Regions from separate parts of the Homo sapiens genome. Here regions 1 and 3 are each linked to region 2. Evidence: fine-mapped expression QTL. A gene starts in region 2. Each other region holds a variant in brackets. All regions are shown on one strand. Distances are from middle to middle.

The links. PIP is the estimated chance that this variant, and not a neighbour inherited with it, causes the effect.
Region 1: its variant is fine-mapped to the expression of PAIP2 in whole blood (INTERVAL, PIP above 0.99).
Region 3: its variant is fine-mapped to the expression of PAIP2 in whole blood (INTERVAL, PIP above 0.99).

What each region holds. Positions count from the first base shown.
Region 1 is chr5:139,211,439-139,222,487 of GRCh38, reverse strand. It overlaps the pseudogene RNU6-572P. Among named protein-coding and RNA genes, the nearest start is that of SIL1, 19 kb to the right of the region's middle. The variant T/C (reference allele first, on the strand shown) is at 5,197.
Region 2 is chr5:139,335,558-139,346,606 of GRCh38, reverse strand. It overlaps PAIP2 (poly(A) binding protein interacting protein 2), which reads right to left and starts at 4,753. Exons shown (of 4, transcript NM_016480.5): 1 at 4,627-4,753.
Region 3 is chr5:139,031,238-139,042,286 of GRCh38, reverse strand. The region is part of intron 5 of SIL1 (SIL1 nucleotide exchange factor); the gene reads left to right. It also overlaps the pseudogene RPL12P21. Among named protein-coding and RNA genes, the nearest start is that of LRRTM2, 160 kb to the right of the region's middle. The variant C/T (reference allele first, on the strand shown) is at 5,041.

The DNA.
Region 1 (11,049 bases), 120 kb after region 2:
TAGTAGGACACCTGCTTGGACAGAATTTTCATTTTATTTCCTGTCTGGAGCAGCCCAATTAATTTTTCAGGCCGTGAGTTGCCACACATCACAGATGACAGCTCCTCAAACCCTCAGAGCAGCATCCTCCTCCTCGGTGGCCACACAAAGTCAGGATTTGCCCCTACCCTTCCTGGCATTCCCAGATTAGAGCAACATCTCAGGGGCACCCCTGCCTTGCCCTGGATCTGTTGCTGAGCCTCCTTTTAACACGAACTGTGGCTTCTACTACCTTCTCTCCTTTAAGCCTGAGTCCCAGTATACAAAGAGGATTAGCTGATTTTCTTACCTTTGAGTCCAGGTGGAGGCATGAAGCACAGAAGTGTGGGGAACAGAACAAGGGACGCTCCAGACAGTATGTTTCTAAACTGCTCTTGGACAAATAGAGTCATTTTCCCTCCATTCTCACTACTACCTCCAGTTCCTTTGCCTCTGGTCATTTTGTCCCTCCTACTCTAATTTCCACAAGAAGATAAGACAAGGTTCGTTTTCTCTGTTTCTGCCTCTTGCCTCCAGGCTACTAGAAAAAACCACGAAACTATGTTCACTAGCTCCAATGTCTGATTTTCAGTTGTGATCAGGCCTTCAATGCTACTTAGTAATCTTTTCTTAAAAATATAGAATGCTTCACAAATTTGCTGTCATCCTTGCTCAGGGACCATGCTAATCTCTCTGTACCTTTCTAATTTTCTTTCTTTCTTTTTTTTTTTGAGACGGAGTCCCGCTCTGTCGCCAGACCAGAGTGCAGTGGTGAGATCTCGGCTCACTGCAACCTTTGCCTCCCAGGCTCAAACGATTCTCCTGCCTCAGCCTCCTGAGTAGCTGGGACTACAGGCGCCCGCCACCACATCCAGCTAATTTTTGTATTTTTAGTAGAGACAGTGTTTCACCATGTTAGCCAGGATGGTCTCGATCTCTTGCCCTCGGGATCTGCCTGCCTCGGCCTCCCAAAGTGTTGGGATTACAGATGTGAGCCACTGTGCCTGGCTTTTTGTTTTGTTTTGTTTTGTTTTTAAGAGACAGGGTCTTGCTCTGTTGCTCAAATGAGTGCAGTGGCACAATCATAGCTCACTGCAGCCTTGAACTCTTGGGCTCAACCAATCCTCTCACCTCAGCCTCCTGAGTAGCTAGGACTACAGTTGTGTGCCACCACACCTGTCTATTTAAAATTTTTTTTGTAGAGTCAGGGCTGGTCTCAGGCTCATGGCCTCAAATGATCCTCCTGCCTCAGACTTCCTAACTGCTGGGATTACAGGCATGAGCCACCACATCTGGCTGGTAATCCTTATAATAGATTGTCCCCTGTGTACAATTTGTTTTGTCCTCCTGTTACGATCATTTGAGGTTGTGTCCAGTTTTAGCTGTTGTAAATAAAGTTGCTATGGGCTGGACAGGGTGGCTCACACCTGTAATCCCTGCACCTTGAGAGGCTGAAGTGGGAGGATTGCTTGAAGCCAGGTGTTTGAGACCAGCATGTGCATCAAAGCAAGACTCCTATCTATATTTTTAAAAAGTTGTTATGGACATTCTCATGCATGTCTTTTTGTGGACATATGTTTTTATTTTTCTTGGGTAAAATATCTAAGAGTGGATTTGCCCTTCATAGGATAGGTGTAAGTTTAGTTTTATAAGAAAGTGAGGCTGGATGCAGTGGCTCACACCTGTAATCCCAGCCCTTTGGGAGGCCGAGGTGGGAGGATCACTTGAGGCCAGGAGTTGGAGACTCAGAGTCTCCATCACAGTGAGACAACAGAGTGAGACTGCCATCTTTACAAAAAAAAAAAAAGTTTTTTTCTTAAATTACCTGAACATGGTTGTGTGTACCTGTAGTCCTAGCTACTCGGGAGGTTAAAGTGGGATAATTGCTTAAACCCAGGAGTTCAAGACAGCAGTAAGCTATGATTGAATCACTACACTGCAGTCCAGGCAACAAAGCAAAACCCTGTCTCAAAAAAAAAAAAAAAAAGTAACAAAAGGCTGGGCATGGTGGCTCATGCCTGTAATCCCAGCACTTTGGGAGGCCAAAACAGGTGGATCACCTGAGGTCAGGAGCTGAAGACCAGCCTGGCCAACATGGTGAAACCCCCTCTCTACTAAAAATAAAAATAAAATAAATAAATAAATAAATAAATAAATAAATAAAAAGCTGGGCATGGTGGCAGGTGCCTGTAATCCCAGCTACTCGGGAGGCTGAGGCAGGAGAATCACTTGAACCTGGGAGGTGGAGATCGTGCCATTGCACTCCAGTCTGGGCAACAAGAGCGAGACTCCATCTAAAAAAAAAATTAAAAAAAAACAAACAAACCCAAAAAACAAAGTCTGGGCACGGTGGCTCATGGCCTGTAATCCCAGCACTTTGGGAGGCCGAGGCAGGGGGATCACGAGGTCAGGATTTTGAGACCAGCCTGGCCAACATAATGAAACCTCGTTTCTACTAAAAATACAACAAAAAAATTAGCTGGGTGTGGTGGCAGGCGCCTGTAGTCCCAGCTACTTGGGAGGCTGAGGCAGGAGAATCGTTTGAACCCGGGAGGCGGAGGTTGCAGTGAGCCGAGACTGCACCATTGCACTCCAGCCTGGGTGACAGAGCGAGATTCTCTGTCTCAAACAAACAAACAAAAAAAAGTGACAATGATTTTCCAAAATGGTGTACTGGTTAAGGCCCTTATTAAAGAGGAAGATCCCTGGGCTCTGTGCTGAATTTACTGAATCAGAATATTATCAGAATAAAGGACATAAAGAAGCTCCCATGTAATTTTTCTTTTTTTTTTTTTTTGACACATGGTCTTGCTCTGTTGCCCAGGCTGGAGTGCAATGGCGCGATCACGGCTCACTGCAGCCTCAACTTCCTGGGCTCAAGTGATCCTTCCATCTCAGCCTCCCAGGTAGCTGGGACCACAGGCACACGCCAACACACCTGGCTAAGTTTTTTAAATTTTTATTTATTTTTTGTAGAGACAGGGTCTCCCTTTTTTGCTCAGGCTGGTCTCGAACCCCTGGATTCAAGCAATCCTCCTGCCTCACCCTCTCAGTGTTAGCATTACAGGCATGTAAACTTATCACCATTGCGCCTAGCCCCATGTGATTTTAATGCAGGTGGTTTTTTGACTGGCATTTAGAAACCACTGGAGAATATCTTAGTATCTTTACTTTCTTGTTTTTCGTTCCTTCCTCAATAACTAATTCTGGCCACCATGTATTGTGGTTGTAAATAATGGAATAATTGACCAACAGTGAATTAAGTAGTAAGGACATTTATTTATCTCATATAACAAGAAACCCAGAGATAGGTGGGTCCAGGTTTGGTTAATTCAGCCATTAGTAATGTCATCAAATAGCCAGGCTTTTCTCATTTTCCTCTTCACTGTCCTCAAAGTATTTGCTCCATTCTTGGGCTTATTTCTCATAGTCCTAAGATGGCTGTCACAGCTCTGAATAGCATGAGCTCACGTGGCAACTCCCAAGGCAGAAAAAAGCAAGGGATGGCCAGCAATGGTGTCTCACGCCTGTAATCCCAGCACAGTTGGGAGACTGAGGCGGGCAGATCACTTGAGGTCAGGAGTTTGAGACCAGCCTGGCCAACATGGTGAAACCCCGTCTCTACTAAAAATACAAAAATTAGCTGGGTATCATGGTGCATGCCTGTAATCCCAGCTACTTGGGAGGCTGAGGCATGAGAATCACTTGAACCTGGGAGGTAGAGGTTGCAGTGAGTCAAGATCATGCCACTGGACTCCAGCCTGGGTGACAGAGGGAGACTCCATCTCAAAAAAAGAAAAAAAAGAAGGAATTAAAGATTTCTCCCTAAGCATATTTATTGCATTAGGGAGGAAAATCCTTTGCAGAATCTTCCAGAAAACTTCCTCCTAAGTTCCATTATCCAGAACTGGGTCACATGTCCACCCCTAGGTTTAAAGGAGGTGGGGGGAGGGGTGTTGGCAAAGTATCTAGCAGTTTTGAGGCCTTATAATGTGAGGCAGTCCCTGCCAGTAAGTGTTGGGAACAGGCCCCCAAATCTGGCCATAAACTGGCCCCCAAACCGGCCATAAACAAAATCTCTGTAGCACTGTGATATGCTCGTGATGGCCATGACACCCACACTGGAAGGTTGTGGGTTTACCAGAATGAGGGCAAGGAACACCTGGCCCACCCAGGACAGAAAACCACTTAAGGTGTTTTTAAACCACAAACAATAGCATGAACGATCTGTGCCTTAAGGACATGTTCCTGCTGCAGATAACTAGCCAGAGCCCATCCCTTTATTTCGGCCCATCCCTTCATTTCCCGTAAGGAATATTTTAGTTAATCTACAATCTACAGAAACAATGCTTATCACTGGATCGCTGTCAATAAATATGTGGGTAAATCTCTGTTTGAGGATCTCAGCTCTGAAGGCTGTGAGACCGCTGGTTTCCCACTCCACACGCTATATTTCTTTTTCTTTTTTTTTTTTTTTTTTTTTGAGATGGAGTCTCGCACTTTCGCCCAGGCTGGAGTGCAGTGGTGTGATCTCAGCTCACTGCAAGCTCCACCTCCTGGGTTCACACCATTCTCCTGCCTCAGCCTCCTGAGTAGCTGGACTACAGGTGCCTGCCACCACGCCTGGCTAATTTTTGTATTTTTAGTAGAGACAGGGTTTCACCATGTTAACCAGGATGGTCTCAATCTCCTGACCTCGTGATCCACCCACCTTGGCCTCCCAAAGTGCTGGGATTACAGGCGTGAGCCACCGTGCCCAGCTCCACACGCTATATTTCTGTGTGTGTGTCTTTAATTCCTCTAGTGCTGCTGGGTTATGGTCTCCACAACCGAGCTGGTCTTGGCAAGTAAGGAAGAAGAGTGGGAAAATGGCTTTTGGGTTGGTAATCGACAGTGTCTCTGGCTGGGCATGGTGGCTCACGCCTGTAATCCCAGCACTTTGGGAGACCAAGGCGGGTGGGTCATGAGGTCAGGAGATTGAGACCATCCTGGCTAACACCATGAAACCCCGTCTCTCCTAAAAAATACAAAAAATTAGCCAGACATGGTGGCGGGCACCCGTAGTCTCAGCTACTCAGGAGGCTGAAGCAGGAGAATGGCATGAACCCAGGAGGCAAGCTTGCAGTGAGCCGAGATCTCCCCACTGCACTCTCCAGCCTGGGCGACAGAGTGAGACTC[T/C]GTCTCAAAAAAAAAAAAAAAAAAAAAAAGAGTGTCTCACATGAGACCTCATCAAAACTGTTCTTAGAAAGTCACATTAATTGCTAGATCCAATGACTTCTCTCCAGTTTTCCTCATACTGGACCTCTCTGTGGAGTTTTATATTGCTGGCTCCTTCTTTCTTGAAACTCTTCTCTTGGTTTCTGCTATACCTTCTACCCCGCTCATCATGTCCTCCCCTTGGGCTTCCCTTCACTACCCTTCTTCTCTTTATGTGTTGGTATCACCCTGGGTTTTGAACCAGACTCTGTCTGGGCACCTCTGAGCATCTAAACCAGGCAATCCATTCTAACCGTGTTTCTTTCTTTTTTTTTTTTTTGAGTTGGAGTCTCACTCTGTTGCCCAGGCTGGAGTGCAGTGGCGTGATCTTGGCTCACTGCAACCTCTGCCTCCCTGTAAGGGAGGAGACCACCCCTCATATTGTCCTATTGTAGAGACAGGGTTTCATCATGTTGGCCAGGCTTGTCTCGAACTCCTGACCTCAAGTGATCCGCCTGCCTCAGTCTCCCAAAGTGCTGGGCTTACAGGCATGAACCACTGCGACTGCCTCAAAGCTGAATTTTCGATTGAAACAATGTATGTTATGAACCCCCCATGACTGTACAAATTTTCACTGAAAACTTCTGAAGCCATCCAGTGTGTGGTGTGACTTGATTTCAGATGGACATCAGTGAAGGGGCCACAGGATTTATGAGGCTGACAGTGTGGACAGTCCCACATCTGAGTCACACCTAGATTATTGAAGCCTTTTACTGGTTTATCTGCCTCTGGCCTTCCACCCCTTCCAATGCTCCCTCCACATGGCTGCAGAGTGATCTAAGATGTAAACCCAGGCTATTTCCCTATTTAAATTGTTTAATGGATCCTTAATTGGTGTTTCTCAAACTTGGAGTTCCTGGATCCCTTGGGGACACATTCTCAGGTGTCTTGAGTAAACTTTAAGAAGTTTACTGGCTGGACACAATGGCTCACGCCTGTAATCCCAACACTTTGGGAGGCCGAGGTGGGAGGATCACTTGAGCCCAGGAGTTTGACACCAGCCTGGGCAACATAGTGAGGCCCTGTTTCTATTTTAAAAAGAAAAGAAAAGAAAAAAATAAGGAGCTTACTATTTGTTTTAATTTCAGGATTAATCTTTTGTTTTGTTTTTTTTTTTGAGACAGGGTCTTGCCCTGTTGCCTAGGCAGGAATGCAGTAGCAGGATCATGGCTCACTGCAGCCTTGACCTCCCCTGCTCAAGTGATCCTCCTGCCTCAGTCTCCAGAGTAGCTGGGACTACAGGCACAGCCACACCTGGCTAATTTTTGTATTTTTTGTAGAGACGTGGTTTTGCCATGTTGCCTAGGCTGGTCTCGAACTTCTGAGCCCAAGTAATCTTCCCACCTTGGCCTCCCAAAGCGCTGGGATTACAGGCTGAGTCACCATGCCCGGCCAGGATTAATCTTAACAAAATAGTAATAACGACATAAGCATAGTCTGTAACACCGGATGACCTTATAACCAAGCACTTTCAGGAAATTTTAGTGCCTTTTTTTTTTTGCACTTGTATTATGTATTGATTGGGTTGGTGCCAAGTGATTTTCTGAAATGACAGCATTTAACTTTTAATGCTGCAACTATTTTCATCTCATTATTTACAGATATATCTGCAGCACCTAGAACAACAGTGCACATCGTAAGTGTTCAATAAAGACATGTTGAATAAATGAATGAATGAAGTTTCTCAAGCTAGGTTCTGACATCCTTGGGGCTCTTCCACAGTTTGAAATCGCCTCAGTATGGCACGTGAGGCTCTTCACAATTAAGCTGGGAATACTCAACCAGTAATTTTCCCAGACAGTCTGGGCAGGATGCGGGGGCGTAGTCCTCTTTAGAAAATAAAAAAAGTGAAAGTATAAAGCATTTATGTACATTTTGACAGGGCAGACGTGATATGCAAATGGATTGCAAATATAATGCAAATGACATGCAACTCCTCATGCAAATGAGCATCCTGTCTTTGGAATCGACTGCCGGGTATTCACTGATTTGTCTGCAGTACTGGCAGTAAATCTTTCAAGGGTTTGGGATGCAAGTTGCTTTGATGGTGATGTGTGTGTACTAGGGAGGAGGGGTAGTGGGATGGGGTCTCTCAAGGAGGAGTCGGTGTGGTGCTAACGCTTGCAGCTTAGTATGAAGCTTAATACAGTATACAGTTTAATATGAGGTTATTCTCCTGTGATGCTCTAAGGACTGACATTTCGGAATTGGTGGCGGGTGGTGGCAATGAAATGCAACTTCTTATATTCTTCAACTCTTTGGTTGCCTCACATCTTCTGTCCCATCCATCTCACATCATTGGGGTTCTGGTCCACAGGAGTAGAGAGTAGGGAGTCAGAGATCCCTAGCCCCAGGCCCTCATCATGAGGACTACAGAAGAGCTCTTGTAAATCATTTCTGGAGGAGGTTATGAGCATGGTGTGGAGTTCTGCACTTCCTAATCACATGACAAGCAGAATTTAGCTGAATTTCTAGGCCTGTTAGAAAAAGATGAGTGGTGACAAAAAGCATGGAGACTTTCTGAGAAATATAGCTGCTTAATCTCAATGCCAATAATGTGATATCTGACAAAATTGGGAAGCTTACTTGGAAATCTAAAGGGAAAAAATGTCAACTATGATTTTTTTCTTGATAAAAACCTGTTCTTCCTTGTCCTTGGTGTGAAAGGAAATTTGTGGTTACACAGACTCTTCCCCAATGATTATAAAAATATTGGGCAAATGATGCAAAAGACGCTTTAGCAGGTATATTTTAGCCTAACTCAAGATCTGTTTTTCTCTGACACTTTGCATCAGACCTGGGTTCAAACACTCAATTTTCAGCTATATAAACTTGGACAACTTATTCAACTTTTCTGAGCTCAGTTTCTGCATCTGTAGGGGAGTAATAGAATAATAGAATCCTTATGAGGCTGTCGTAAAGGTCACATGAGATAATGCATGTACTTAACACAGTGCCGGGCTCATAGTGAGCATTCAATTAATATGGCAATTTGCAATGACCATCTGTAGATTTGCTGCCTAGATTCCATTCATCCTCCATCTGATAACTGTACCCCATTTCTTCCTGGTGAACCATCATTTTCTTTTCATTCCATGTGGTCCTAATGAAACTGACTCCATCCTCAGCATCAGGAGTAGAACATGTGGCGTAAGCTGGGTGCAGTAGCTCACACCTGTAATTCTAGCACTTTGGGAAGCTGGGCCAGGTGGATCACTTGAGGCCAGAAGTTTGAGACTAGCCTGGCCAACATGGCAAAACCCTGTCTCTACTAAATATACAAAAATTAGCTGGGTGTGGTGGTACATGCCTGTAATCCTAGCTACTCAGGTGGCTGAGGCATGAGAATCACTTGAACCTGGGAGGAAGAGGTTGCAGTGAGCCAAGATTGTGCCACTGCACTCCAGCCTGAGCAACAAAGTGAGACCCTGTCTTTAAAAAACAAACAAACAAGGCCGGGCGCGGTGGCTCACGCCTGTAATTCCAGCACGTTGGGAGGCCGAGGCGGGTGGATCACGAGGTCAGGAGATGGAGACCATTCTGGCTAACACGATGAAACCCCGTCTCTACTAAAAATACAAAAAATTAGCCGGGCGCGGTGGCGGGCGCCTGTAGTCCCAGCTACTCGGGAGGCTGAAGCAGGAGAATGGCGTGAACCCGGGAGGCGGAGCTTGCAGTGAGCAGAGATCGCGCCACTGCACTCCAGCCTGGGCGACAGAGCGAGACTCCGGCTCAAAAAAACAAACAAACAAACAAACAAAAAAGAACCTGTGACTTAGGTTTAAATCATTCATACCATTCTATTCTTAGGCCACAGTGATTGGTTCAAGAATGGGGACATACACAGAGTTACCGTACAATCCAGCAATTCCACTTCTAGGTAACCTTGTATGATCAACACTCAGTGTATGCAAAGGATTAGTTCCAGACGCCCAAGTACACCAAAATCCATGCAAACTCAAGTCCTGCAGTTGGCTCTGCAGAGCCTGAGTATACAAAAAGTCAGCCCTCCATATACTCAGGTTTCACATCCTGCGAATACTGTATTTTCAATTTGCATTTGGTAAAAAAAATCTGCATATAAGTGGATCCTTGCAATTCAAACTTGTGTTGTTCAAGGGTCAAGTGTATATGAATGCTCATAGCAGCATTATTCATAATAGTCAAAAAGTGGAAGCAACCCAACTATCTACCACTTGGCATCAGAATGCTGCTATGAACATTCATGTACAACTTTTTTATATTCATACAATGGGCTATTATTCAGCAATAAAAAGGAATAAAGTACTGATTCATGTTACAACATGGATGAACCTTATAAACATTATGCTAAGCGAAAGAGGACAGACACAAAAGGCCATATATTATTTGATTCAATTTATATGAAATATCTAGAATAGGCAAACCTGTGGAGACAGAAAGATTAGTGGTAGCCAGGCACTGGAAGGAGGGGGAATGGGTAGTGGCTGTTACTGAGTATAGGGTTTCTTTTTTTTTTGAGACAGGGTTTGGCTCTGTCGCCCAGGGTGGAGTGCAGTGGCTAACTGCCATTTCTGCCTCCCAGGCTCAAGCACTCCTCCCACTTCAGCCTCTGGAGTAGCTGGGACCATAGGCACTCGCCACCATGTCCAGCTAATTTTTGTATTTTTTATAGGGAAGGGGTTTCTTATGTTGTTCAGGCTGGTCTCAAACTCCTGGGCTCAAGTTGTCTGCCTGCCTTGGCCTCCCAAAATGCTGGGATTACAGGTGTAAGCCACTGTACTTGGCCTAGAGTTTCTCTTTAGGGTGATAGAAATGTTTTGGAATTAGATAGTGGTGATAATCATACAACATTGTGAATATATTAAAAACTACTGAATTGCATACTTTAAAAAGATGAATTTTATGGAATGTGAATTATATCTCAATTTAAAAAACTAAACCAGATAAAATAAAACAGTGGACATATGTCTCAAGTAGACTAATGACAGCCAGTAAGACCCACTCTAATTCTTTGGAGTCATGAGGGAAGCAAACTAGTTCCTTTCTTTCAGGACTCCAACTTGAGAGAATATAGGGTCTGGAGCTGCTGTCCTGTCTTGCTATGTGTAGATCCGGAGACTGAATTATCCAACTCAGCTGAAAGCAGAGCCAAGAAATGGAGACACCAAGACCTGTTTACACATTGGAGCTACAGTAATTAATTGTCCCAGTTTGCCTGGGACTTTCCTGGTTTTAGAACTGAAAGTCTGTATATCACGTTAAGCTGGAGCTCCGAATCCACCTCTGCTTGAAGGTCAACATGTTACCCGTGGACTTTTCAATTACAGTCATGCACCATGTAATGATGTTTTGGTCAATAACGGATCACATATGCGATGGTCATTCCATAAGATTATACTACAATAGTTTCACTGTACCTTTTCTATGTGTAGATATTTTTAATTTTAATTTTTTTTTTTTTGAGACACAGTCTCACTCTGCCACCCAGGCTGGAGTGCAGTGGCGCAATCTCGGCTCACTGCAACATCTCCCTCCCCGGTTCAAGCGATTCTTGTGCCTCAGCCTCCTGAGTAGCTGCAATTACAGGTGTGTGCCACCATGCCTGGCTAATTTTTTTATTTTTGGTTTTTTTTTTTTGAGATGGAGTCTCGCTCTGTCACCCAGACTGGAGTGAAGTGGCGTAATCTCGGCTCACTGCAACCTCCGCCTCCCGGGCTCAGGTGATTTTCCTGTCTCAGCCTCCGAGTAACTGGGATTACAGGCAGGCGCCACCACACCTGGCTAATTTTGTAT
Region 2 (11,049 bases):
TGAGCTGAGATGGTGCCACTGCATTCCAACCTGAGCATCAGAGGGAGACTGCATCTCAAAAAATAAAAATAGGCCAGGTGCGGTGGCTCACGCCTGTAATCCCAACACTTTGGGAGGCCAAGGGGGTGGATCATGAGGTCAAGAGATTGAGACCATCCTGGCCAACATGGTGAAACCCCGTCTCTAAAAATACAAACATTAGCTGGGCGTGGTGGCACATGCTTGTAGTCCCAGCTACTGGGGAGGCTGAGGCAGGAGAATCACTGGAACCTGGGAGGCGGAGGTTGCAGTGAGCCAAGATTGCGCCACTGCACTCCGGCCTGGTGACAGAGCAAATCTCCGTCTCAAAAAAATAAATAAAAATTTAAAAATCCTGTTCTAGACGACAGCTTAAGATGTTTTAACAAATTCATATATTTCACCAGATTTTGGATAGGTAAGAGCAATTTTTTCCCAGTACTACTGCCTGGAAGTCAGCAAACCCTTTCAATTTATCAACTTAGGGCTTTATTGTGTCTTCAGCTGTTTTTCCCCTCCTGAAATGCCTCTTAGACATATTGGTTTCCAGCAGTGTCCTTTTATATTGTCTATGGAATTTTAAAATACAGAAATCTTTTAGGTTTTACAATCTTTCTCCACTAGTTTCATCTTTTAAGAATTCTCATTAAAATTCAAATATAGGCCTGGTGCGGTGGCTCACGCCTGTAATCCCAGCACTTTGGGAGGCCGAGGTGGGCGGATCACAAGGTCAGGAGATTGAGACCATCCTGGCTAACACGGTGAAACCCCATCTCTCCTAAAAATACAAAAAATTAGCCAGGCATGGTGGCAAGCGTCTGTAGTCCCAGCTACTCAGGAGGCTGAGGCAAGAGAATGGCATGAACCCGGGAGGTGGAGCTTGCAGTGAAATGAGATCATGCCACTGCACTCAGGCCTGGGCAACAGAGCAAGACTCCGTTTCAAAAAAAAAAAAAAAAAAATTCAAGCATAGTTCTCTTCTGTTTCTTTCATTAATCTACCTCCATAGGCACCATCTTTTCTCATTCCCTTGGACTCTGTTTTGAACCACTGTGATCCTTACCTTATTTGCATATTTTTTAATCGTATTTTACGCATATATACGTTTAAGCATACTTCCTTTGGCAGTTAAAGAGGATCGCAACATTTTTCAATTGGTCTGTTTTCCACTCTGAAGTCTGTGAAAAGCACCGAATTTTTTGTTTTACTATTTGGCACAGTAAGGTAACGATTAAAAAACATGGGCTCTGGGCTGGGCGCGGTGGCTCACACCTGTAATCCCAGCACTTTGGGAGGCCAAGGCCGTTGGATCACGAGGTCAGGAGATCGAGACCATCCTGGCTAACACGGTGAAACCCCGTCTCTATTAAAAATACAAAAACAAAAGTAGCCAGGTGTGGTGTCGGGTGCAGCTACTCAGGAGGCTGAGGCAGAAGAATGGCATGAACCCTGGAGGTGGAGCGTGCAGTGAGCCGAGATCGCGCCACTGCACTCCAGCCTGGGCAACAGAGCAAGACTCCGTTTCAAAAACAACAACAACAACAACAACAACAAAAACCCATGGGCTCTGGAACCAGGCTGCTTTACTAACTGTGTGACCATGGCAAGTTACTTAACCTGAGTCTCGGTTTCCTCATCTGTTGCATGGGAATTAATAATAGTACCTAGTTAGAGAACCTAGCACATAACAATTGGCATTAACTATCTCGGTGATTAAATATTTAGGGCAGTTAAAGGTCTCTAGACCAAGGGACAAGGTAAAAATTAGAGATCTTAAATCTACAGAGGTGAAACAATGTCACAAGAAAATCCCAAAGTCTACCCTAATCTCAACTGTAGTGTAACAAGGGTAATTAGGTGAGAGCAAGAATGGGTCATCCTAACTGATAAAAGCTCAAGTACATTAGAAATGCCACCCAAATTTATACAAACTGATATAAGAAGCAGAGGCTATTCAAATTCTCCAAACGTGTGCCCATCCAATATGGTGGCCATCGGCTACACAGATCTATTTAATTAAAATTTAGTTCTTCATTTACACTAGCCACATCTCAAGTGCTCATAACCACACACAGTACCTACATCATTGGACAGCACCACTCTAAACAATGAAAAAATTAAGAAAAAAGGGAGTTTTTTGGAACTGAACCTTAGCCTATATCAAATGCAAACTATTCATGCACCTGTGCAACAGGTGGTCTAGATCACAAAGGCAATGACTTGGACAACTTTAATCTTAGACCACAGTCAGAAGACGTAGGTTCAAATCCCAGCTATGCTACATAGCCACCTTAAAGTACCCTAGACCTGTCACTAAATCACACAGCACCACATAATGGTTAAGAGCATAGAATCTCTGGACTATCTGGATTTGAATTCCGACTATCATAGCTCTGTGACATTGGGAAAGTTACTTCACGTCTCATTTGTTATCTTCATTTTACAGTAGGGCCTACCTTCTAGCTATGTTGTGGATCAAATTAGTTAATATTTGTAAAGGCAATGAGAACAATGCCTGGCATTATTGTTATATAAATATTTGCTAAATAAAAATAATCTTTCAGGCTTCTATTTCTTTAATTCCCAAATGGGCAAGATAAAACTTGCTCTGTTGGGAGGCCGACGGGGGCGGATCACAAAGTCAGGAGATCGAGACCATCCTGGCTAACACGGTGAAACCCTGTCTCTACTAAAAATACAAAAAATTAGCCGGCGTGGTGGCAAGCGCCTGTAGTCCCAGCTACTAGGGAGGCGGAGGCAGGAGAATCGCTTGAACCCGGGGAGGCGGAGGTTGCAGTGAGCCAATTGCGCCACTGCACTCCAGCACTCCAGCCTGGCGACAGAGTGAGACTCCATCTCAAAAAAAAAAAAAAAAAAAAACTTGCTCTGCCCATTTCACGTTTCATGATAATGAATGACAATAGGATGTAAATTACAAGAAAATGTTTTAAAAGCACAAAAGGTTATTAGATTACAAGGGGGCAGAGGTCTTGCCTTCCACATTCTTTAATCTCCCACAGTATCAACCAAATTGCTGTGCTAAGTGTTCAAGTTTTTCACTAAAACTGGAGCATCACACTCTAGAGTCATAAAGTGATAAACCTGAATAAAGTGCAGAGTGCTTATTTAAGGAAAAGCCTGCTATAAACTCATTCTGACCAAAAGAGGGTGAAATTACCTACCTCAATTTGAGTTCCTAAGGAGCAACGTGCACAGCCTTGAATCATTAGAGGAAATCTCCATTCCCTAACCTCCATCCCTTAAAGAAACACAAGTGGGTTCTATAGTTCTTGTCAAGTTACCTATCCTGTGATTTTGTGTGTGTGTGAAAAAGTTTTATTCAAGTTCACAACTGACAAGTAGTATAAACAGACTAATTTTCCCCAAATATCCTGTCTTTCACTAACTGGAAACAGAATCACAAAAGCAAATAGTGGAGTCTCATTAAAAATTATTGTAGAGAACTTTTACTTATTGCAAACACAACCTACGCCAGAAGAAATTTCAAAAGCGACTTAATGAAAATATAAACCAACACCTGATCTAACTGTGCTAATGAAATCTGTGAAAAAACAATGCCACCACGTTTCAACATTAGCCAGCACACCCAACATGAACATCTACTTTCCGTTGAAATAAACGTCAAAGGCTGTCAGCTGCTACACCTTCCAAGGCAAATTGGAAGCCAAATTCTTTCTAGAGTTTGGGGTTTTTATGAGTTGATACGGGTGCCAAATCAGGGAAAAAAGAAACAAAAGGAAGCAGGTAAGACCCCTTTTAGGAGTCCCTAAAAAATATCACTGCTGGCTGCTGCAACAAATGTTTTGAAGACCTAAGTTCACCACAAGCCTTATTTATTTCTGGTGGCGATGGTGGGGAAGGAGGAGAGTAAGCACAGAAAATTATTAAAAGGTAAGAGGACCTTAAAGTTCATCTAACTCAACGCCCTCCTAGGGTAAGGGTTCCCAGTACCCCAAAGGTTCTTTTTTCCAGGGCATGAGCTGCAATACAACCAAAAATAAGGGGTAGCGATGGCGAAGAAACGGGAGAAAGACGATCTTCTGATCAGGCCCGTCGACGGTTGCAGCGTTCCCCCAAGACGCCAAGAGCCCGCCAGTCCCTCCGCCCCTCTCTCCCCAAACCCCAGCCTCGGCTGAGGCGCGCACGCGCAGCAAGTAGGGGCTGCGCGTGGCGACGCGCAGGCGTAAAGTGGGTAGAAACAATAAGCTTTGTTGCCGAGGCGGTGGGAGGGGGGCAGGGGAAAGGGTACCCGGCGGAGGGATAAAGGACCGGGAGAATGAGGAACAGGAGAAAGTGCTATCCCGGCAACCCTCGCGCCACTGAGGACCCGGATAGAGAGCTGCGAGATCCAAATCATTAATAATGACAATGAAAAAAAAGCGACGGCCATGTCTCGGAGAAGACAGAGACGAAGTCGGCCCAAGCTCATCCCTCAGACTTGGTGGAAAGAGGCAATGAACAACGGAGGCCGCAATGGACTCGGTGGCCAACCACCCAGGGAACCCTTTAGGCCCCTCTGCCGTCGCCGACTTGCTGTCCCTCGACCTCCGCACCCCTGTCGCCACTCTGCCCGAGAGGACCCCTCACCCAATGCACAGCAGCGGGGACGGCAGCCAACGAATCCTGTCGGCCTCCGCGGATCTCCACAGGCAGCGCCGCTCCCCCGCTCGACGTGCGCTTCGCCCGCCGCCTCCCTTCTCCAGTCCAAACAAACACCCCAGCCCGGAAGTGACTTCACTTCCGTCGCCGCCAACCCCGCCCTCTTGTTCTGTCAGCTCTGCCCTCCGAAGCCACTAGAGAGCGCGCGCGAGAACGCGCGACCCCGAAGTCTGTCTCCAAGGCTGCACACGTGTGCACGCGCAGCAGCCTTTCCAGCGCGCCCCTACGGCCGGCTGCCGGGTGTAGCAGGAACGCTGTCGCACGTTCTCTCTGGAAGGCAGGAATGGGGGCGTACCACTGTTCCCACACCCGCCCATCTTCCGAGAATGATGATATGCAATGAGTGAGGCAGCTGGGGACTGAAGAGCACCCTGACAAGATACACAGGCGTGGACTTTCACAGACATCACACACCCCCCCAAAAACGTAATATTTAGGTAATGACATAGCACACACATACCCATACACACCCCAAGAATGATACACAATGTCACACAAACAGCGACATGCACCGAGTCACGTCAAGATCCTGACACAGAAAAATAATAAACTAAGGGAAATCACAGAGGCGTACTAAATGATATGCAAACATCCGCACTCAGACATGTGCAGGCACAAAAACACACTTTTTGAAGCTGGATGCAAACGCAAAATACAAATACATGTGCAACTTCTTTGTGGCTAAAGGAGGAAATGCCCTGTCCACACAGGATAGAAAAGTGTGACCTCCGGGTTCAAGAATTTTGTAGTCCGTGATCCTGGGTGCACTGGCCCCATAGTTATTCTTACCCATGCTTCCTTCCTGTCATCGTTGACAAGCCCCAAGATATATTTCTAGTGACACTAAGCAATGTAAAGAAGAGAGTATGTTTTTGTTTTTTTGTTTTGTTTTGTTTTTTTGAGGCGGAGTCTGGCTCTCTTGCCCAGGCTGGAGTGCAGTGGCGCCATCTCGGCTCACTGCAACCTCCGCCTCCCGGGTTCAAGAGATTCTCCTGCCACAGCCTCCCAAGTAGCTGGGACTACAGGCGCACGCCAGCACACCCGGCCAATTTTTGTACTTTTAGTAGAGATAGGGGTTTCACCGTGTTGGCCAGGATGGTCTCGATCTCCTGACCTCGTGATCCACCCGCCTCCGCCTCTCAAAGTGCTAGGATTACAGGTGTGAGCCACCGCACCCGGCCGAGAGTATGTGTTTTACAAATCTGGATGTTCAAATGTGTAGATACTATCTTTGAAAAAGGGACACAAACTAATTTCTTCCCTTTGGAGAGGGCAAATGACCGACTAGGAAATGGGTGCAAATAACTATCCTTTTCTCCTGAAAAATTTGAATCTTTTAAAAACTATATGCTTGTAGTATTTACTAAGACAAAAAATTCCCTCCATGGGAAGGCTTGAATTTAGAAACCGGGTTGTTCCTCTTCAGAGCTATTTCATTCACTGAATACTCTTCTGGGCCAGTCCAAAGCCCCAAAGAAATGAATGCAGATGGTTCTGCCCTAGCTCCTGGGTCAACCACCTTGGCAGCACTTACAGATCTATATTCTAAACTGTGAAGATAAGCTATCAATCTGAGGCTGAAGGAAGTCTGAACATAACAAAATAGGTATTTATATAGTCTGAGATGACTCAGACTCTCTTTTTAAGACACAGTCTTCCATCACCCAGGCTGGAGTGCAGTGGCATGATCACGGTTCACTACAGCCGCAACCTCCCTGGCTCAAGCAATCCTCAAACCTCAGCTTGCAAAGTAGCTGAGACCACAGGTGTGTACCACCATGCCTGGCTAATTTTTGAATTTTTTGTAGAAATGAGGTTTTGCCATATTGCCCAGGCTGGTCTTGAACTCCTGGGCTCAAATGATCTGCCCGCTTCAGCTTCCCAAGGTGCTGGGATTACAGCCGTGAGCCACAGGGCCTGGCCTAACCCAGACTCTCTTAAAAGGTAAGCATGAGGCCAGGTGCGGTGGCTCACACCTGTAATCCCAGCACTTTGGGAGGCTGAGGCGGGCAGATCATGAGGTCAGGAGTTTGAGACCAGCCTGGCCAACATGGTGAAACCCTATCTCTAATAAAAATACAAAAATTAGCCGGATGTGGTGGCACATGCCTGTAGTCTCAGCTACCCGCGAGGCTGAGGCAGGAGAATCGCTTGAACCCGGGAGGAGGAGGTTGCGGTGAGCCCAGAGCATGCCATTGCATTCCAGCCTGGGTGACAGAGTGAGACTCTGTCTTAAAACAAACAAATAAACAAAAAGGTAAACATGAGATAATTGAATTTGTTATTTAGTAACACAAGCCACTTAACTGGTTATAATGGTAATAAAAAATATTTGATAAATCATGTGAAACACTCAAAGGCCAATGCTGTTTTTCCCACACAAAGGGGTTAAGATCTCAATTTCCAGATCGCACTGAGAGTTCACCACAGTGGCTAAGCGTCAGGGGCCCAGTATTTCCTTGGCATTCTCTAGACATAAGGACACTCTGCTCACATGCAAAATAAACTTCAATGTAGCAATATTATACTTGGATAGTGATGGTGATGATCTATACATGGAAAACAAAATAATGAAGGCTAACAAGTTTGCTAATGGTAAGGAGAGACACTGCAATGGGACCAACAGAGAGATCCAGTTTTAAAACACTGCAAAAATTTACCTATCTGGTTCACATAGTAACCATCTTAAGATGGAGGTTGAAGTAGAAATCAGAAGGCCCAGGATGGCTATGAGTAGGCCCCCACTGTAAATTACCACCTTCCTACAGACCCCTCATTTCTCATCAATAATGTAAAAAGTATGTACCTTCTTACCCAAACATTCCAAATATAGGAATCTACCCAAATGGACAGATGTAAAGAGAGACATGTAAGAATATTTATAGCCTGGTTATAAAACCCAAAAGATCAAAATGCCTATCAACAGGAAATTGGTTAAATGAATAATGATGCATTAAAATAGTTATTTAAAATATGTATATTCATTGATATAGAATATATCAATGCTTTTTAAAAGAGCAGGTTGCAAAACAGCATGTTTGTAAAATCTTTCAAAATTTTATATGTAAACAGGCACGAGTAGGTATAAATGCCAAGTATCTGATAGAATGGTCATCAAAATGTTAATAGCAGTATTTCTGGGTGGTCAGATTTCTTTTTTTTTTTTTTTTTTTTTTTTTTTTTTTGAGATGGAGTCTCGCTCTGTAGGCCAGGCTGGAGTGCAGTGGCACGATCTCGGCTCACTGCAATCTCTGCTTCCCAGGTCCCAGTTCAAGTGATTCTCCTGCCTCAGCCTCCCAAGTAGCTGAGACTGCAGGCGCGCACCACCATGCCCAGCTAATTTTTGTATTTTTAGTAGAGACGGGGTTTCACCATGTTGGCAAGGCTTGAACTCCTGACCTCGTGATCCGCCTGCCTCGGCCCCCCAAGGTGCTGGGATTACATGCGTGAGCCACCGTGCCCGGCCTTCCTGGTGGTCAGATTTCAAAGGAGTCAATATTTTCTGAATTTTAAAAATATTGTCTAAATTCTCTAGGAAAGCTTGAATTGCATATTGCATTTATAAACAAGAAAACACACCCCCCCAAAATGAACTCTTACATAGGTTCCTATAGTGCTTCAGTAATGGTTCCTATGCTCCTTTGTATCAAGGTAGGCAGAGAATGTAGCTAGCTAGCGTAGGTATGTAGGGTTGAGTAAGGGCCTAACACTGCAGGGTAAGCAAAGGTCCCTGCTCTGAATGAGAAGGTGAGGGGATCAAGTATTATTCAACTTTTAAAATGCCTACTTATGCCTGCACTGATCTAGGCACTAAGGATACACAGACAGTAAGTGGTGGGTTTTCCTAAAAAAGTTGTTTAGTGAAGTTTAAAACTCACCTGGCCTTAAAGAGCCAAACTTGGCCAGGCGCGGTGGCTCACGCTTGTAATCTCAGCACTTTGGGAGGCCGAGGCAGGTGGATCACGAGGTCAAGAGATTGAGACCATCCTGGCTAATACAGTGAAACCCAGTTTCTACTAAAAATACAAAAAATTAGCCAGGTGTGGTGGCATGCACCTGTTACCTTAGCTACTCAGGAGGCTGAGGCAGGAGAATCGCTTGAATCTAGGAGGCAGAGGTTGCAGTGAGCTGAGATCTCGCCACTGCACTCCAGCCTGGGTGACAGAGCAAGACTCCGTCTCAAAAAAAAAAAAAAAAGTAAAATATTCTTCGGGTGGGCGCGGTGGCTCATGCCTGTAATCCCAGCACTTTGGGAGGCCGAGGTGGGTGGATCACGAGGTCAGAAGATCGAGACCATCCTGGCTAATACAGTGAAACCCAGTTTCTACTAAAAATACAAAAAATTAGCCGGGCGTGGTGGCGGGCGCCTGTAGTCCCAGATACTCGGGAGGCTGAGGCAGGAGAATGGCGTGAACCCGGGAGGCGGAGCTTGCAGTGAGCCGAGATCGCGCCACTGCACTCCAACCTGGGCGACAGAGAAAGACTCCGTCTCAAAAAAAAAAAAAAAAAAAAAAAAAAAAGAGCCAAACTTGTGTAGTTTGAATATGCAGCATGAGCAGGATTTGGAAAATGTGTAGGTGTAGAATAGGTAAACGTTTTTGCAGAATCATCATGTGTGCCTACAGACGTGCTGAATAACTGGAAAGGCAGAAGCAATTCCTCTTTTCCAGCTGGGAAAACCGTTCCCTGCTGACTTTGTGCAGCTCAGCCTTTTTTTTTTTTTTTTTGAGACGGAGTCTTTTTTTTACGCCCGTCTAATTTTTTTGTATTTTTAGTAGAGACGGGGTTTCACCATGTTAGCCAGGAGCAGCTCAGCTTTTTTTGTTGTTGTTTCCATGTTCTCCCCATGTTCACCTCTCTAGAAGCTTGCCTTTTAAAATAACATGGGCCAGAGATACACTTGGAGTTTCAGCAGAAGCAGCCAAAATCAGGAAAATGAACTAGGAGTTATCATGAAAGTCTCACTATCCTTCACACCAATCATCACTTAAACTGCAGTCCCTTTCCACAGGCTATCACACCATAAAGCAGGTTTCCCTATTCAAATAGGGCATAGGCTGGGTTCTGTGGCTCACACCTATAATCCCAGCACTTTGGGAGGCCGAGGCAGAAGGAATGCTTGAGGCCAGGAGTTCAAAACCAGCCTGGGAAACTTACCAAAACTCTGTGTTCAGAAAGAATGTAAAAAAATAGCTAAGTGTGGTGGCACATTCTTATAAGTCCCAGTTACTCGTAGGCTGAGGCAGGAGGCTTGCTTGAGCCCAGGAGTTCAAGGCTGCCATGAGCTACTAGTGTGCCACTGCACCCCAACCTGGTAAGGCGGTGACGCTGTCTCTAAAAAAAAAGGTGGGGGTGGGCCAGGTACACTGGCTCGCGCCTGTAATCCTAGCACTTTGGGAGGCCGAGGTGGGCGAATCACTTGTCAGTTTGAGACCAGCCTGGCCAACATGATGAGACCCCTGTCTCTTCTAAAAGTACAAAAATAAAAATTAGCCAGGTGTGGTTGCACACCTGTAGTCACAGCTACTGGGGAGGCTGAGGCAGGAGAGTCACTCAAAACTGGGAGGCGGAGGTTGCAGTGGGCTATCACGGCATTGCACCCCAGCCTGGGTGTCAGAGCGAGAACCCCTCTCAAAAACAAACTAAAAACAAAACCACCACCAACAAACTAGGGTTTATGCAAGTGTAGGAAAAAAAGTAAAAAGTGCCAGGCATGATGACTTATGCCTATAATCCCAGCGCATTGGGAGGCCAAGGTAGGGGCATCTCTTGAGCCCATGGATTTGAGACCAGCCTGAGCAACATAGCAAGACCGCATCTTCTACACACAGACACACACACACCCCCTACAAAAATTAGCTGGGCATGGCAGTGCATGGCTGTAGCCCTAGCTACTTGAGAGGTGGAGGTAGGTGAATCACTTGAGTCCAGGAGTTCGAGGCTGCAGTGAACTATGATTGTGTCATTCATTGCCAGACCCCATCTCAAAGAAAAAAAAAAAAAAAGGCAGGAAGTCAATATAAGTAGAGTTGGTAGTTACGAAAGTAGCTGGGATCTAATTGCTCTGTGATGTTTCGAATTTTCCTATTATGTACGAAAACAAACTCTTCCATTTAAATCTCAAAAGCCAAATGGCCAATGAGAAGCCGCTACTTCTGATTTAACAACCCTGTCAAAGTTGAGCCAACTGAAATTGGTCCTGTTTTTGATAGGCAGGGGCAAGGAGTGAAACTTGAAAAGCATTTTGTCCTAATCAAAGACAGGACTCCTGCTGCTCTTTGTGTATACCCTTTTGGATCAGGTCCTTAGAAGAAACTCCTCATAGGCTGGGCGCAGTGGCTCACACCTGTA
Region 3 (11,049 bases), 300 kb after region 2:
CAGATCTCTGCCTCACTTACACTTGGATTAGACACAAGCTTGTTCCAAAAGAACAGAGGAGCTGGCCCAGGAAGCAAGAAGCCGGAATCCTTGTCCTTGTCCTTTGAACATGTAGCAAATGTGTTTCTTCTAGGCTTCAGATTCCTTAAATTTAAAACATGGGGCTGGAACAAGAGGATGACTGAGGTTTCCTCCAGCTCTAAATTTCTCTACAAGCTAAGGGAATGAGAGGAGGAAAAGGTGAAGAATTACAGCCCCTTGGCCATGCCCCTAATGTCTGGGAGGGCTCACAGGTGCAGGTCTATACCAGGAAGATCATGAGCTCTTGGAGTCATTTCTCTGTATTTCTGTTTGAGTCCTGTCAGTTTTTGAAAGAACCTTCTCTGATGGCTGCCTTAGAGACCTAAGTTCTCCCTCCCTCTTCTCCTTACAGTCCCCATTTGCTTTTTTTTGTTTTTTTTTTTTTTTGTTTTTGAGTTGGAGTCTTGCTCTGTCGCCCAGATGGCCTTGTTGTTTGTGCGGTGGTACGATCTTGGCTCACTGCAAGGTCCACCTCCTGGGTTCAAGCGATTCTCCTGCCTCAGCCTCCTGAGTAGCTGGGATTACAGGTGCTTGCCACTACACTCAGCTAATTTTTATGTTTTCAGTAGAGATGGGGTTTCACCATGTTGGCCAGGTTGCTCTCGAACTCCTGACCTCAAATGATCTGCCCACCTTGGCCTCCCAAAGTGCTAGGATTACAGGCATGAACCACCGTGCTGGGCACTCATTTGCCTTTATTTACCTCTTCACTCCTTCCCCTGAATCCAGGTAATGTCCTAGAGAGACAGCATTAGCCTCTTGACAGCTTGTGTATTACTGGAAGAAGCCATAGGTTGTTCTGATCCTTTAGAACTAAATATTTCTGGGAAAATGAACCTTTTTGGGGGATAGGAAACTGGTGTTTACCTGTTTAAGAAGTGTGAAATGCAGGCTCAGTCTCCACGTCTTTACTCATCTTACCAAAGTCACTTCTCCTACACGGAGAGTGTATGTGGTGTGGGAGGGCACGTGGCTTGGTGGCAGCAGCAGTGGGTGAAGGAAGGCAATGCTCGCAATTGTGTCCTACCACAGATGTATTAGCCAAGGGGCTGAGGAGAAGCACATCTTCTGCCTGGTACAGGTGAGGCCAGCAGAGGAGTGCCTGGGTGCCTAGGACAGGGACTGGCCAGGGCTTTGGCTCCTTCCCACCCACTGTCGGTTCCATGTGGGACTGATGGGAACATTAAACAGCTCCTATTCAGCGTCTTCTCTGTGGATGGAGGACCCACTTAACCTTGTTCTCTTCTCTTTGCTTTCCCTGGGAGTGTGTTTGGCTTTTCTTTTCTCAGGTGATGGCATTTCCCCCCACCCCAGTAATTCAATTAGTGTAGAAAAGTATGAATATTTATAAAAGTATTTCAAAATGTATAACCAAGAGATTACTTAAAAGTTTTAGTTGCTGGTTTTTGTAATTAAAAATACTCCTCTCGGCTGGGTGCAGCACTTTGGGAGGACAAGGCGGGTGGATCATCTGAGGTCAGGAGTTTGAGACTAGCCTGGCCAACATGGTGAAACCCCGTCTCTACTGAAAATGCAAAAATTAGCCGGGCATGATGGTATGTGTCTGTAGTCCCAGATAGTCCAGAGGCTGAGGTGGGAGAATCACTTGAAACCGGGAGGTGGAGGTTGCAGTGAGCCTAGATTGCACCATTGCACTCCAGCCTGGGTGACAAGAGAGAAACTCTGTCTCAAAAAAAAAAAAAAAAAGAAAAAAGAAAAAAGAAAAAATACTCCTCTCCCCTTGCAAGGGGATCCCAATATCAGCACCCAAATGCAAGACCCAAGCTCCAGCTCATTTGCACCAGCTGCACACCTCTGAGGTCTGGCTATCATACTCTTTCCTTACTTATGTGGAACTTAGGTTGTTAGCACCATCACTGAGGTGCTAAGTCCTGGCATCCTTCTCCTGCTTTTCATTTGGAGCCTATCTGGACTGACTCAGCTCACTGCCAATGTGCTCATCGAGCTGGCACTGGGATTGGCAAATAAATGGATTTGAAATTGGTTGGGGAGTTTCTTACATATATCAAGCTTTTGGCTACAGATATCATCCTATTTTTGTTTATTAATCTTTAAACCTAGCCTATGTGGTGTCTTGTTAGTACAGGATGGTGCTTTTGTGATTTATATAGACAATACTGTCAGATATTCGGCCATATCCTCTTAATTAAATGAGTGGGTTTTTGGGAACTGGATGTTTTTGGGGACGAGAACATCAATTATATTGTATCCATCGGTAGCTTGGTAGGTTTAAGTGAATCAGTCTTTCCCGGAGTTCCTTGGTTCTTGGAAAAGCTGTCTCTCCCAGCAGATTTGGTTGTTATGGTTGAATCTCGTCTACTTATCCCTCTATTTCCATACAAATTGCTTGATGCTTTTATGTTTTATTATGTCTGCTATTGTTCACCTGTATTCTACAAATTATTGTTTTTTAAGATATGGCCTTTTTAAGCTTTTGATTCTTGGCAAGATGTAATAGACTTATTTCTCCCTATTCCCCCAGCTAAGGGTAACTAAAAACCCTGGACATAATACTAAAGGCAAATGTAGGAAGACTCTAAAACACAGTCAGAAGGCAGCAGACTGGCTAGGGACCTTGGAGCTTGGGGAATGACATCAGTGAGTTCCTTGGATTTTCTTTTTGTCCTCTATATATTTTAGACTGAGTGTTGGCAAATCCCACATCCTGAAAATGTCAACTGGTGCAGATTTTAAAAAGTTATAAGAAAAGCCTGCTATTTCTAGACAAAGAATTGAGCAAAGGGCATCCTAACAGGATAGAAACCTTATTTACAATACCTGTCCAACTCCTGCCAAAGATAATGAAAATCTCCCCACCCCACTTAGTGCCAGTGCAGTGGACATTGAGGTGGGGAGTCTGGATTTCTGCCTGCTATTTGGTGGTAGTAGCAAGCTGTACTCTGATTCCTCCACCAGGGTCGCCAGGAGCCAAGTGGACGGCCTGAACTCACGTCTGCTCCTGGCAGCAAAAAGTGGTAGAAGGCAGTAAAAAGTGGTAGAAGGCAGTGTTCTGCTTCCTCCACCAAGATGGTGTCAGTGGGAGCTGAGCAGAGAGCTTGACTTTTCATCCTCTGCCCAATGGATACTCTCTGCTTCCCCTGCTGGTGTATTACCAACAGACCAAGTGTGCACCCTGATTTTCCATCTCCCATCTGACAGTAGCAGGCTGTTTATCCTGCTGGAGTGGTGTCAGCAGAGGCTAAGCAGGGAACTTGAATATCTGTCCTCTGCCTGGTAGCACCAACATGGTTTTTTACTTTTCCCTGATAACATGGTGTCTGTTGGGGTGAATGAAGAGTCTGTACTTCCACCCCCAACTTGGAGGCAGTGAGACAGTGTGAGGCAGCATTCTGCTTCCCTCTCTGGGGCGGGGCCAGTGGAATAAGTGAGAAGTATGAACTTCCACCCTCAGGCCAGCAGCAGTGAAACAGTGCTCGATTCTCCCGCCAAAGTGGTGTCAGTAGAGGCCCAGGGAGGAACCTAGACTTCCACTCCCAGTGGCCAGCATCCAGTGGTGGCAGGTGAAGTTGTTTCCCTTCTCAACTAGAGAGTAGGGGTACGATTTGGGAGAGAGGAGAGCTAGAGAAAGGGATTTTGCATATGAAGTCCTAGACATACCCGTTCAGTGACCCATACAAGAAACTGACCAGAATTAATACAACAAAAAGTTTAGGAACTGAACTATAGTGTGGAATGCTGCCCAGGTTTTTAGATTGGCCTCTGGGTAGCACACAAAGGAAGCAGACCAGAATAGCACTACAATGCTCTGAAAACTAAATTGTTGTTGGAGCCACAACCCACACAAGTAAGCCAGAACCAGTATACTAAGCCTAAATAGGATGTCTACCTACTGAAAAAGATGAAGTAGGATCTGGAATTTCATAACTTAATACCCAAAATGTCTAGGATATAATTAAAAATTACTTTTCATACCAAGAACCAGGACAATCACAACTTGAATTAGACAATCAACAGATGCTGTTATGGATTGAATGTTTGTGTCTCCCCCAAATTTATAAGTTGAAGCCCTAACCCTGCAATGTGATGTTTGGAGGTGGGACCTTTGGAAGGTAATTAGATTTAGGTGAGGTCATGAGGGTTAGGCTCAAGAGGGATTAATGTCCTTAGAAGAATAAGAGAGACCAGTACTCTCTCTCTCTACCGTGTGAAGACACAGCTAGAAGGTGATTATCTGTAAGCCAGAAAGGGGACCCTCACCAGGAACCACGTCGACTCATTCCTTGATCTTGGACTTCCCCAGCATCCAGAATTGTGAGAAATAAATGTATGTTGTTTAAGCTGCCCAGTATATGATATTTTGTTATAGCAGCCTGAGAAGACTGAGACAGATGCTAATACTGAAATGACTCAGAAGTTGAAATCATCTAACAAGAATTTTAAAACAACTATTATAAAATTGCTTCAGCAAGCAATTATGAGCACCCTTGAAGCAAAGTCTCAGCAAGGAAACAGAAGATAAGAAAAAAGAACCAAATGGAATTATAGAACTGAACAATATAATAACTAAAACTTTAAAAGTCACCAGATAGGCTCAGTAGCAGAACAGAGATGACAGAGAAAAGAATCAGTAAACTTAAAGACAGATAAATAAAAATTACACAGTCTGAACAACAAAGAGAAGATAGATTGGAGAAAAAAAATAACAGAGCTTTAGGGACCTGTGGAACTGTAACAAAAGATCTAACATTTGTGTCATTGGAATTCCAGATGGAGAGTAGAAAGAATATGGGGCTAGAAAATAATCAAGAAACAAGGGCTAACAAATTCCCAAATGTGGTGAAAGGCATAAACTCACAGATTCATAAAGTGAATCCAGTGAATCCAGGTGAACTCCAGACAGGATAAACTCAAAGAAATCAACACCAAGATACATCACAGTTAAACTTCTGAAAACTAAAGACAGAAAAATCTTCAAAG[C/T]AACTAGAAAAAATAACACAACTATAGGGGAACAATGATTGAGCGATATTGAATTTTTTATCTGAAACCATAGAGGCCAGAAGTATGTGGAATATTTTTCAATTGCTGGGGGAAAAAATGAACTGTCCACACAGAATTTTATAGCCGTGAATATATTTCAGGAGTGAAAGGGAAGTCAAGACACTTTTAGAGAGAGGAAAATTAAGAAAATTTCTCACCAGCAGACCTACTCTGAAAGAATGACTAAAGGATATTCTCCAAATAGAATGAAAAAAGAATAATAGAAAGAAACTTGAAATATCAGGAATAAAGAAAGAACAATGTAATGAATAAAAAATAGGGAAAATGCAGCCTATCCTTTTCTTCTTGAGTTTTTATTATTTATTTTCTAATTTTTAACTTTTAAGTTCAGGGGTACATGTTCAGGTTTGTTATATAGATAAACTTGTGTCATAGGGGTTTGTTGTATAGATTATTTCATCACCCAGGTATTAAGCCCAAGTACCCAACAGTTATTTTTCCTGATCCCCTCCCTATTCCCATCCTCCACCCAATAGGCCCCAGTGTGTGTTGTTCCCCTCTAAGTATCCGTGTGTTATCATCATTTAACTCCCACTTATAAGAGAGAACATGTGGTATTTGGTTTTCTGTTCCTGCATTAGTTTGTTAAGAATAATGGCCTCCAGCTCCATCCATGTTTCTTGAAGGGATAGATCTCATTCTTTTTTATGGCTGCGTAGTATTCCATGGTCTTTGCCCAGTCTATCTTTGATGGGCATTTAGGTTGATTCCATGTGTTTGCTATTTTGACAAATCTGACAAAAACAAGCAATGGGGAAAGGATTCCCTATTCAATAAATGTTGCTGGGATAACTGGCTAGCCATACACGGAATATTGAAACTGGACCCTTTCCTTATACCATATACAAAAATGAACTCAAGATGGATTAAAGACTTAACCTAAAACTATGAAAACCCTGGAAGACAACTTAGGCAATACCATTCAGGACATAGGCATGGGCAAAGATTTCATGACGAAGATGCCAAAACCAATTGCAACAAAAGCAAAAATTAACAAATGGGATCTAATTAAACTAAAGAGCTTTTGCACAGCAAAAGAAACTATCAATAAACAACCTACAGAATGGGAGAAAATTTTTGCAAACTATGCATCCAACAAAGGTCTGATATCCAGCATCTGTAAGAAACTTGAACAAATTTACAAGAAAAAAACAACCCCATTACAAACTGGGCAAACTGCTGAAGTTTGACCCCAGCGACATCAAAGTTGTATGCCTGGCCGGGCGTGGTGGCTCTCGCCTGTAATCCCAGCACTTTGGGAGGCCAAGGCGGGTGGATCACGGGTCAGAAGATAGAGACCATTCTGGCTAACATGGTGAAACCCCGTCTCTACTAAAAATACAAAAAAAATTAGCCGGGCGTGGCGGTTGGCGCCTGTAGTCCCAGCTACTCAGGAGGCTGAGGCAGGAGAATGGCGTGAACCTGGGAGGCGGAGCTTGCAGTGAGCCAAGATCACGCCGCTGCACTCCAGCCTGGCGACTGAGCAGGAGTCCATCTCAAAAAAAAAAAAAAAAAAAAAAAAAGTTGTATACCTGAGATGCACGGAGGGTGAAATGGGCGCCATGTCTGTGCTGGCACAGGTATCATTGCTGGTATCTGGCACTGGCCCCCAAGATTGGCCCCCTGGGTCTGTCTCCGAAAAAGGTTGGTGATGACATTGCCAAGGCAGCCGGTGACTGGAGGGGTCTGAGGATTACAGTGAAACTGGCCATTCAGAACAGACAGGCCCTGATTGAGGCAGTGCCTTCTGCCTCTGCCCTGATCGTCAAAGCCCTCAAGGAACTGCCAAGGGACAGAAAGAAATGGAAAAACATCAAACACAGTGGAAATATCACTTGTGATGAGATTGTCAACATTACTTGACAGATGCGGCACCAATCTTTAGCCAGAGAACTCTCTAGAACCATTAAAGAGATCCTGGGGACTGCTCAGTTTGTGGGCTGCAGTGTTGATGGCCGTCACCTCATGACATCATAGATGACATCAACAGTGGTGCAGTGGAATGCCCAGCTAGTTAAGCACAAAGGAAAATATTTCAATAAAGGTTCATTTGACAACTAAAAGAAAAGTGGGCAAAGGACATAGACACTTTTCAAAAGAAGACATACATGTGGGCAACAATCATATGAAAAAAAGCTCAACATCACTGATCATTAGAGAAAAGCAAATCAAAACCACAGTGAGATACCATCTCACACCAACTATAATGGCTATTGTTAAAAAGTCAAAAAATAATAGATGCTGGCAAGGGTTGTAGAGAAAAAGGAATGCTTATACACTGTTGGTGGGAGTGTAAATTAATTCCACATTGTGGAAAACAGTGTGGCAATTCCTCAAAGACCTAAAGACAGAAATAGCATTTGACCCAGCAATCCCATTACTGGGTATATACCTAAAGGAATAGAAATTGTTCTGTTATAAAGACACACATGCATATGTTTTTGAGTTTTTAAAATTGTTTGATAGTTGAAGCAAAAATTATGACAAGATCTGTTTCTGAATGTATAGTGAGGAATTTTGAAGACAATTAGGAGGAAGAAAGGATTAAACATAATTGGAGGTAAGGTTTCTACATTTCACTCAAAGTGATAAAACATTGATACCAGTAGATTATGATGTTACTTATGTATATTATAATACTTAGAACAATCATTATTAAAAACTATACAAACAGTTACACTCAAAAGCATAGGTAATCCAAAAAGGAATTATATAAAATGTACCTTGGTTTGTCACAGGAAGGTGAGAAATGGGAAACAGGAACAAAAACTGGAGGAAACAAAAAAAATAAATAAAATGGTGTATTTAAGCTCTAACATATAAAAATATTACCTTAAAACATAAATGTATAATAATTGTAAAATGTTTTATAATTGGTCTAAATATACCAATTAAACAGATTTTCATAATGAATTTTAAATGAATTTCAAAAATATGCTTTCTACAAGAAATTCAAATATAATGATAAAGACAGTAGGTTGAAAGTAAAAGAATGGAAAGCATATCATACAGATATTAATTAAAAAGCAGGAGTTACTATATTAATATCAAAGTTGACTTTAGATTAAAGGAAATTATTAGGAACAAGAGCAATTTACATAATGATAAAAGGGCCAGTCCATTAAAATATACAGTAATTCTAAATGTGTATGTACCACTTTTATTTGTATATAAAAATACCTGAAGCAAAAACTAACAGAACTAAAAGAAAGAAACAGACAAATCCGCAATTACAGTTGGGGATTTCAACATCCCTTTCTCAGAATTGCTAGAACTACTAGACAGCGGATCAGTAAGGGTATTAAAGAGCTGAATAACACCTTCAACCAGAAAAATTTAATTGACATTTATGGAACATTCCATTCTACAACAGCAGAATATACATTCTTTTTAAGTGTCCATGAAACACTCCTCAAAATAGAGTATATCCTGAGTAATCAAACAGATCTCAACAGTTTTAAAAGAACTGAAATTAGGCAGAGTATGTTCTCTCATTATAATGGAATCAAACTAGAAACCAGTCATAGATAGGAAGAAAATCTCCAGTCAAGTCAAAGAGGAAATCTCAGGGGAGGTTAAAAAAAAAAGATACATTGAACTGATTAAAAATGAAAATGCACTTTATCAAAATTTGCAGGATCCAACTAAAGCTGGAAGGGAAATTTGCTTATATTAGAGAAGAAGTAAGGTCTCATACCTATAATGGAAGGTCCTACTTCAAGAAACTAGGAAAAGATGATCGAAACAAGCTCAAAGCAAGCAGAAGGAAGGAAATAAAGAGCAGAAATCAATGAAATTGAAAACATGAAAACAGTAGAGAAAAATCAGTGAAACCAAAAGGTGATAAACTTCTATCAAGACTGACAAACATGGCTGGGCACGGTGGCTCACGCCTATAATCCCAGCACTTTGGGAGGCTGAGGTGGGCAGATCACCTGAGGTCAGGAGTTCGAGACCAGTCTGGCTAATATGGTGAAACCCCTTCTCTACTAAAAGTAAAAAAAATGAGCCAGGCATGGTGGCGCACGCTTGTAGTCCGAGCTACTCGGGAGACTGAGGCAGGAGAATCACTTGAGCCCAGGAAACAGAGGCTGCAGTGAGCCAAGATTGCACCACTGCACTCCAGTCTGAGCAACAGAACGAGACTCTGTTTCAAAAACAAAAAACAAAACAAAAACAAAAACAAAAAATCCACAAGACTGACAAACACATAAAGCACTAAGATAAAAATTACCTGTATCAAGAATGAAACCAGGAATATCATTACAGATCCTGCAGAAATTAAAAGGAAAATACAGTAAGAGAATACTATGAACAACTCTATGCATATAAATTTGATAACTTTCATGAAATAGTCCAGCTGTTTTATAAGCACATATTATCCAAATTTACCCAATATGAAATAATACGAGTAGTCCTATAACCATTAAAAAAACTTGAATTTGTAGTGAAAAACCTTCTATAAAGGAAGTCTCCAGGTTCAGATAGTTTCACTGGAGATATTAACCAAACATTTAAAAACCACTGGCGTCAATTCTACACAGTTTGTTCCAGAAAATGTAAGAGGGAGGAACACTTCCCAACTTACTTTATGAGGCCAGTGTCACACTAATACCTGAACCAGACAGAGTACAAAATAAACTACATAGCAACATTCCTCACGAACATGGAAACAAAAATCCTCACCAAAATTTAGCCAATCAAATCCAGCAATATGTAAAAAGAATTATGCATTATATATAATCACATGGAGTTTATTACCAGAATGCAAGGCTGGTTCAGTGTACAAAAAATAATCAGTATAACCCAACATATCAGTAGGCTAAAGAAGAAAAATCACATCATCTTATGTCAGTTAATACACAAAGAGCATTTGACCATATTCAGTACCCATTCATGATAACTCAGAAATCTAGGAATAGAAACCTTACTTGATAACAAGCATTTACAAAAAGTCTGCATGGAATATTATACTTAACAGTGAAAGACTGAATACTTTGCCACTGAGGTCAGAAACAAGCCAAGGATGTTCACTCTTACCACTCATTCAACACAGTCATAGCCAATGCAGTAAGGCAAGGCAAGGAAAAAATAAAACTATCTCATTTTCCAGATGACACAGTTGTCCATGTATAACTCCCAAAGAGCCTCCAAAAAAAAGTCTTCTAGAATTAATAAGTGAGTTCAGCAATGTCACAAGATATACAGACAATGCAAATCAATTGTATTTCTATATACTAACAAAGAATATTTGGAAATTGAAATTAAAAACATATGTACCATTTACAGTTGCTCCCCTAAAAATGAAATATTTAGGAATAAATCTAACAAGACAGATATAAGATCTATATGCTCAAAAGTATAAAAGTTGGGTGAAAGATGATGATGGAGTTAAATCAAAGAAGACTTAATTAAATGGAGTGACACACTGTGTCCATGGATTGAAACATTCAACATAGTAAAAATGTTAACTCTCTCTGAATGTATAAGTTTAGTGCAATTCCTATCAAAATTTCAGCAGGATTTTTTTGTAGATGAGCTTATTCTAAAGTTTGTATGGAAAGTTGAAGGAACTAGAATAGCTAGAATTTTAAAAAGAAGAATAAGTGGAAGAAAACACACCACCTGATTTTAAGGCTTACTCTGTAGCTATAGTAATCAAGACAATGTGGTATTGGTGGAGAGAAAGAATCATAGATCAATGGAACAGAGTAGAGAACCTAGAAATAGACCCACACTAATACAACTGACTGATTTTTGACAGGTGCAAAAGTAGTTCAATGGAAGACAAATAGTCTTTTCAGCAAATAGTGGGCATCCATAAGCAAAAAATGAGCTGTCACTTAAACCTCATACCTTAAAAAAAATTAATTCAAAATAGATCATAGATTTAAATGTAAAATGTGAAACTAAAAAGAAAAAAAAAAT